Linked DNA regions of Homo sapiens. The protein of the gene in region 1 interacts with the protein of each later gene in a pairwise test. Each region holds a gene or a part of one and is shown on either strand. Other genes may lie near its edges.

What was found.
Region 2: the proteins of CLDN11 (region 1) and KLRC1 interact in binary tests that used the Homo sapiens proteins (3 or more experiments, as listed by UniProt).

The regions. Positions count from the first base shown.
Region 1 is NC_000003.12:170,431,819-170,435,318, forward strand, and holds the end of CLDN11 (claudin-11), read left to right. Parts: intron 1-705; coding exon 706-938; 3' UTR 939-2,873; downstream 2,874-3,500. UniProt on the Homo sapiens protein: Plays a major role in tight junction-specific obliteration of the intercellular space, through calcium-independent cell-adhesion activity.
Region 2 is NC_000012.12:10,445,469-10,448,231, forward strand, and holds the end of KLRC1 (NKG2-A/NKG2-B type II integral membrane protein), read right to left. Parts: intron 2,165-2,763; coding exon 2,064-2,164; intron 1,195-2,063; coding exon 1,083-1,194; 3' UTR 560-1,082; downstream 1-559. UniProt on the Homo sapiens protein: Immune inhibitory receptor involved in self-nonself discrimination.

The DNA.
Region 1 (3,500 bases):
CATTTGTGTGTTGGGATTTTGTGATTGTGAACAGTGTAATAAAAACTTGAACCTTTATCTGGTACTCCGTTTTCATCTAGCAACATTCACCACAGCAAGAGAAATTTCATACCTTCTCCAGATCTTTGTAATGTGAATTGACCAAACTGAGAAAATAGAGTGGAAAATTGAGGTGGCTGCCATCTTGTTTCTCATATTTGAATAGCTCAGATCATTCAGCCATTCAACTGGTCTACATTGAGCACATACTATTTGCCTTGTACCAAGGTAGACATAGGTAAGACATGGACCCTACCTTCAAAGAACTCAGAGCTTAGAATGATGCATAGACATGTAAAGGGGTAATTATAATACAATTAAGTAAGAATACTAATTTTAGAATTATAACTGTAGATATGAAGTGTTGATATACAAGTAAATACAAATAAATATTTTTTGGACTTAAATGGTTTATTTCTAGGTTTTTACACTGGAATTGTTTTGTCTCTGTTACCTGCTGAAAAAAATAAGGACCCAGCAGTCTACTTCTTCTACAGATGCCAACTGCTACATATTGGTTCAGTGTTGAGGGAGCAGAACTGTGTGTATGGAGCTTTTTGGAGCTGGTTGGAAGCCACAAGTGTGTGTATGTGGAGTGAGTGGGCCTGCCCAAGTGCTTGGTGTGTGATGGTTGCGCCCAGTCACCGCCTCTCCATGTCTCTCCAGCTCTCTGCGCCCTTGTTGCCACCATCTGGTTCCCTGTGTGCGCCCACCGTGAGACCACCATCGTGAGCTTTGGCTACTCCCTGTATGCAGGCTGGATTGGTGCTGTGCTGTGCCTCGTGGGTGGCTGTGTCATCCTCTGCTGCGCTGGAGATGCCCAGGCCTTTGGTGAAAACCGTTTCTACTACACTGCGGGCTCTAGCTCCCCGACTCATGCGAAGAGTGCCCACGTATAAGAGGGCTGCCCGGCTGCCCACAGAGGTGCTGTAGATGCTGGGCCCAGGGCCCTAGGTTTGCTCGTCACAGTGTGGGGAAGCCCATTCCTCTGCCAGGCTCTAAAGCCAAAGGTCTAGAAAAGCATCCTGTCTGGCATTTTGTAGTCTTAACTTCTCCCCATTTCCCCCATCTTTTGGTTGCCTTAAAAGAAATCTCTAGCTCAGATAATGCCCAGACATTTTTTTCCCTTGGTGTTGCCCCTATTAGCTCTTTTCTTGGGCATTCTTTTGCTGTTTATTAAAAATATATTATATATATTTTGTTTCTTTAAATTTCAAATGTTTTGCAAACATCACTGAGTTAGGTGGGGGTGGGGAAGAGAAATACAAGATACTTTTTTTTTTTTTTTTTTTTTTTTTTTTTTAAATAGGGCCTCACTCTGTTGCTCAGGCTGGAGTGCGGTGGTGTGATCTCGGCTCATGTAGCCTCAACCTCCCCGGCTCAAGTGATCCTCCTGCCTCAGCCTCCCAAGTAGCTGGGACTACAGGCGTTCACTACTACACCCAGCTAATTTTTAAGTTTTTTATAGAGATGAGGGCTCCCTATGTTGCCCAGGTTGGTCTCGAACTCCTGGACTCAAAGTATCCTCCCGCCTCGGCCTCCCAAAGTGTTGGGATTATAGGAGTGAGCCACCACACCGGCCAAGATGCTTTTCAAACTGATACAGATGACAATGGGAGCCTCATAAAGATGGCTTTTGTTTCTTCCCTTCAAGGTCATTTACTTGTACGAGACAGAAAAAGATAGCATTGGGGACATGGGATGGGGGAGGGAGGGCAATAGTGGAACGAACTTTCCATGGGAAACTTTCCCTTTTGTAAGTTGAGGGCCAGGGGTAGGGATATTTTTTAGTTTGTGATTTTACATTTATCTGTACATACTTTTTCAAGATTGATCATTTTTATAACCATGGTTTTCCTGAAATCCTCAATTCATCAATATGAAGGAAATGAACCACATAGACTTTATGCAATAAATAACAGTGCAAGTGAGTATAACTCTAACTGATGTTCCACAAAACATTTTTGATTTCAGGTTTGTATGATGTAGTTTTTAATCGTACATTTTCATATGCTTCAAACTAACACATTTTTAAAGCTTTCCCCCACTTTTCTCTCTATTTGTATTGTTAGCCATCTTGAAGTGATGTTGTTTAACATAAATTGTACTGTTGAATTTGGCTTTACGGGTGTAAACACTGATGGTATATCAGTATCTGAGACCCCAAACTCTCCAAATACTGATGGTGCATTTTATTCTTGAAGTGAAATCTGTGCAATAAAATAACAGACTGTCTGCAAAACTGGCCTTCAATCTTCTGTTGTATCCAGAGGTATCATTATTGATTTAAAAAAATCTCATTAATCTCTACTGGTAATTTATAGGGAATCTGATCAGTGATTCAAGAACAAGTAATTCTGCATTGCCTTGAATAATTAAAAAGTTATATTTTATTCACGGTATTGCAGTGGTAATTTGTGGTCATGAAAGCATAACCTCAGTGCTCTCTAGGTTTCTTAAGTGGGGTGACTTTATGGCATCTTTAATCATCGATCAATGGGCAGCAATCAGAAACAAAGTTCTCAGCATTATGCAGTTAATGTCCTTCATCTACTTCTAACACTTAGTAAAGGAATTGATTGGCTAGGTATAAAAAGAGAATTAACGAAACCTATTTTATTGGATCTTTAAGTAATAATATCTAAATACATTTCGTTCAAACATACATATGTAGCTGTTTGGACATTTTGGACAAAGACACATTGAGTTGATTTTTATTTGTTTTTCTGTTCCAGAAACTTCATCAAGTTACGGGCCTGGTCTAAGAAAACACATTGCAATCTATTTTGGCAGACTTCTTTCAAATAAAATACTAATTTCATTAGCTGATAGTATAGTAATTGGCAAACATTTCCTCTTTGGAAATACCAATTTGGGCTAGCCATTTTGCAGAAATTTGTGTAGTTTTGATTATAACCTGTTGGAGAGCATTTCTAAATTACTTATACATAAAAGATAATCTTTTTTTTGTTTGTTTTTTTGAGAAGAAGTCTCGGTCTGTTGCCCAGGCTGGAGAGCAGTGGTGCGATCTCGGCTCTCTGCAACCTCCGCCCCTTGGGTTCAAGCGATTCTTGTGCCTCAGCCTCCCAAGTAGCTGGGACTACAGGTATGTGCCACCACACCTGGCTAATTTTTGTATTTTTAGTGGAGACAGGGTTTTGCCATGTTGGCCGGGGTGGTCTGGAACTCCTGGCTTCAAGTGATCCTCCTGCATCAGCCTTCCGAAGTGTTGGAATTATAGGCGTGAGCCACCGTGCCTGGCCATAGAAGACAATTTTTATGTTAACTAAAATATTTGCTTAGCTATTATAATATAGCTTTTGTAAGGATAAAAGTCATGTGACTACATTGGAGGACTCTCCCTACCTCATTAAAAGTTGTCAAGGTATAACGATTATGAACCAGAAGGGAGCAAAAAGCGTTTGAGGGAGTGGACGAGGAGGCTTCAGACCCCATGATCC
Region 2 (2,763 bases), on another chromosome or scaffold:
GAATAATATGTTTAAGTATTTTTTGCCAAAATCAGAAAACGATACATATGATACACACAGAACTTTGATTGTACCTTCTATTCAACTATGGGTATAAAACCCTAGCCAGTGAAAATAAATGAAAATAAAACTACGTTATAGCATATAGATTAAAAAAATAAAAGTGTGATCATGTGCAGATAAAATTGCTCGTTATATAGAACACCCAGAAATAAATCAATAGTTGACATAATAGATTTACATATATAAAATCAGTGGAATAAGTAGATATAAAATCAAAATGCAGACATCAGTTGTATTTCTATTTATAACAACAAAAATTACTAAAGGGAATTTTAGAATCAGGATGCCATTTACAAAAGCATAAATGTAAAATACCTACATTTCTGTATGACTTCAATCCCCCAAAATACAAAATACAATAGAGAGAAATTAAAGATAACACAGTACATTGAAGGAAACACTTTATATTGATTAGAAAAGTCAATATTATAAAGAAGCTAATCTTTAAAAATTACTTTAGAGAATAAATGCAGTCACAAATAATCCCAGGAGAGGCTTTTTTTTTTTTTCTGGATAGCTTTATTGAAGTGTCGTGTACAAAGCATACATTTCATGCACTTAAAATGATTAAAAATCAATGATGTTTAGTATATTCGCAGAGTTACAACCATCACCACTACTGAAATTTAGAAAGTTTTCATCACGACACAAAGTAACGTTCTATCAGTTAGAGGTCATCTCCTATTTCAACCTCCCTCAGACATTGGCAACCACTATTCTACTTTCTGTCTCCATGGGTTTGACTGTTCTTGGTACTTCCTATAAGCTGACTCACATAACATGCAACTTTTAGAAAGGCTGAAAACCACAAATACCATGTTGAGCAAAATGAGCCCGACACAAATGCTAGGATGTCTGTACTTTAGTAATTGTGTGTATCCTGTTTCAATAATTGATTTAGAATTTTCTTATTAGAGCAAATAACATAATTCATTTTAAGATTTATGCAATCATAATATATTTCTATTTTAAGAAATATACAATTTATCTGATGCACTGCAAATGCAAACGCTTTACCTCTAAAGCTTATGCTTACAATGATATATTATTGAAGATCCACACTGGGCTGATTTAAGTCGATTTACTTGTAGCACTGCACAGTTAAGTTCAGCATTATCTGAGTCTTTTATCCTGTAATGGAGAAAAATCCATATTCTGTTACATTTTAAGCAAATGATTCATGAGACGAAAGCATTTTCCATGTACTGTAAGAAAATAATTTCATGGAAAAGGGTAATTAAATTTTTCATAATATTAGTAAGAGTCATTATTCTGAACACTCAACAGAGTAGTCCCCCTTCATCCACGAGGGATATGTTTCAAGATTCCAGTGGATGCCTGAAACGGCAGATAGTGCAGAACCTATAGAGAGATTATGTTTTCTCTACACATTCATAACTGTGATAAAATTTAATTTATAAATTAGGCACAATAAGAGATTGACAACAATAACTACTAATAACAAAATTATAGCAATATGCCAACAGCACTACTCTTGTGCTTTGAGGATATTCTTAAGAAAAAAAGTAAGTGTGGCTTTTTAATAAAAACAAGCACTGCAATTCCCTGATAGTCCAGCTCGAGCTTGTCCAACTCGCTGCCCACGGGCCGCATGTGACCCAGGACAGCTTCAAATGCGGCCCAATACATATACGTAAACTTTCTTAAAACATTCTGTGATTTTTTTTTTCTTTTTTTTGCTCGTCAGCTATCGTTAGTGTTAGTGTATTTTATGTGTGGCCCAAGACTCTTCTTCTTCCAATGTGGCCCACAGAAGCCAAAGATTGGACACCTGATAATCAAGAAGGTTACTAGCTGACCAATGAGCGGTTGAAATATATGGACTACTATGGTCTATTGTAAAATATTTATGTCAGCATTTCACTAACTTTCCACATCTTTCTTCATCTCTATGATTCCACATAGATTTATTCATATTATTCTTCTGAATTTATCCTTTATATATATATTGTTATATAGCGCCATACAAAACAACTTACTCATGTTTGAAAGCCAAACCATTCATTGTCACCCATGGATGATGACTGCTGTTACGAAACACACCAATCCATGAGGATGGTGAAATGATGGACAGAAATTTCTAAAAGAAAAGAAAGAATTTTCACTTAAATAATAATTATGAAAACATTACAAAAACAATATATTAAATTTGAAAACCACTATTTGCAGTGCCAAAAACTTTCATAAATGTTTATAATTTTGATATAAATGAACCCGTCAATGTTTATACTTAGTACTTTTATTCTTCTCATGTTAATAAAGAAGTTTTAATTCTTGCATTATAATAGTTACCCCAATTGACTGAATAAACACAGTAAGGATTTAAATAAGTCTCCTGATACTGTGCATTCATTCCTCCAGATACTGTGACTAAATCAAACTATTTTTGTGCTATATTTCTCAGAGTTGGAGATTTAGAAGAGAAATTAGAGGTTGTGATTCAGAAATAAATGACATGGAAGCTACATATTGGGTTTTCTGGGTACCACACCATTCTTTAACTAGATAAGCCCTCACTTTTTTATCTGATTTGGTTTTGGTGGAATAACAGTGATCCTGACCAGGTGGTGTAGACTCGTCTCTCTCTGCTACTCCCTACTAAAAACAACTATAAACTCTGGGATTAATGAAAGACAAAAGCAATGGAGAACTCTGAAAGGTGGAAAGAGAAAGATGAAA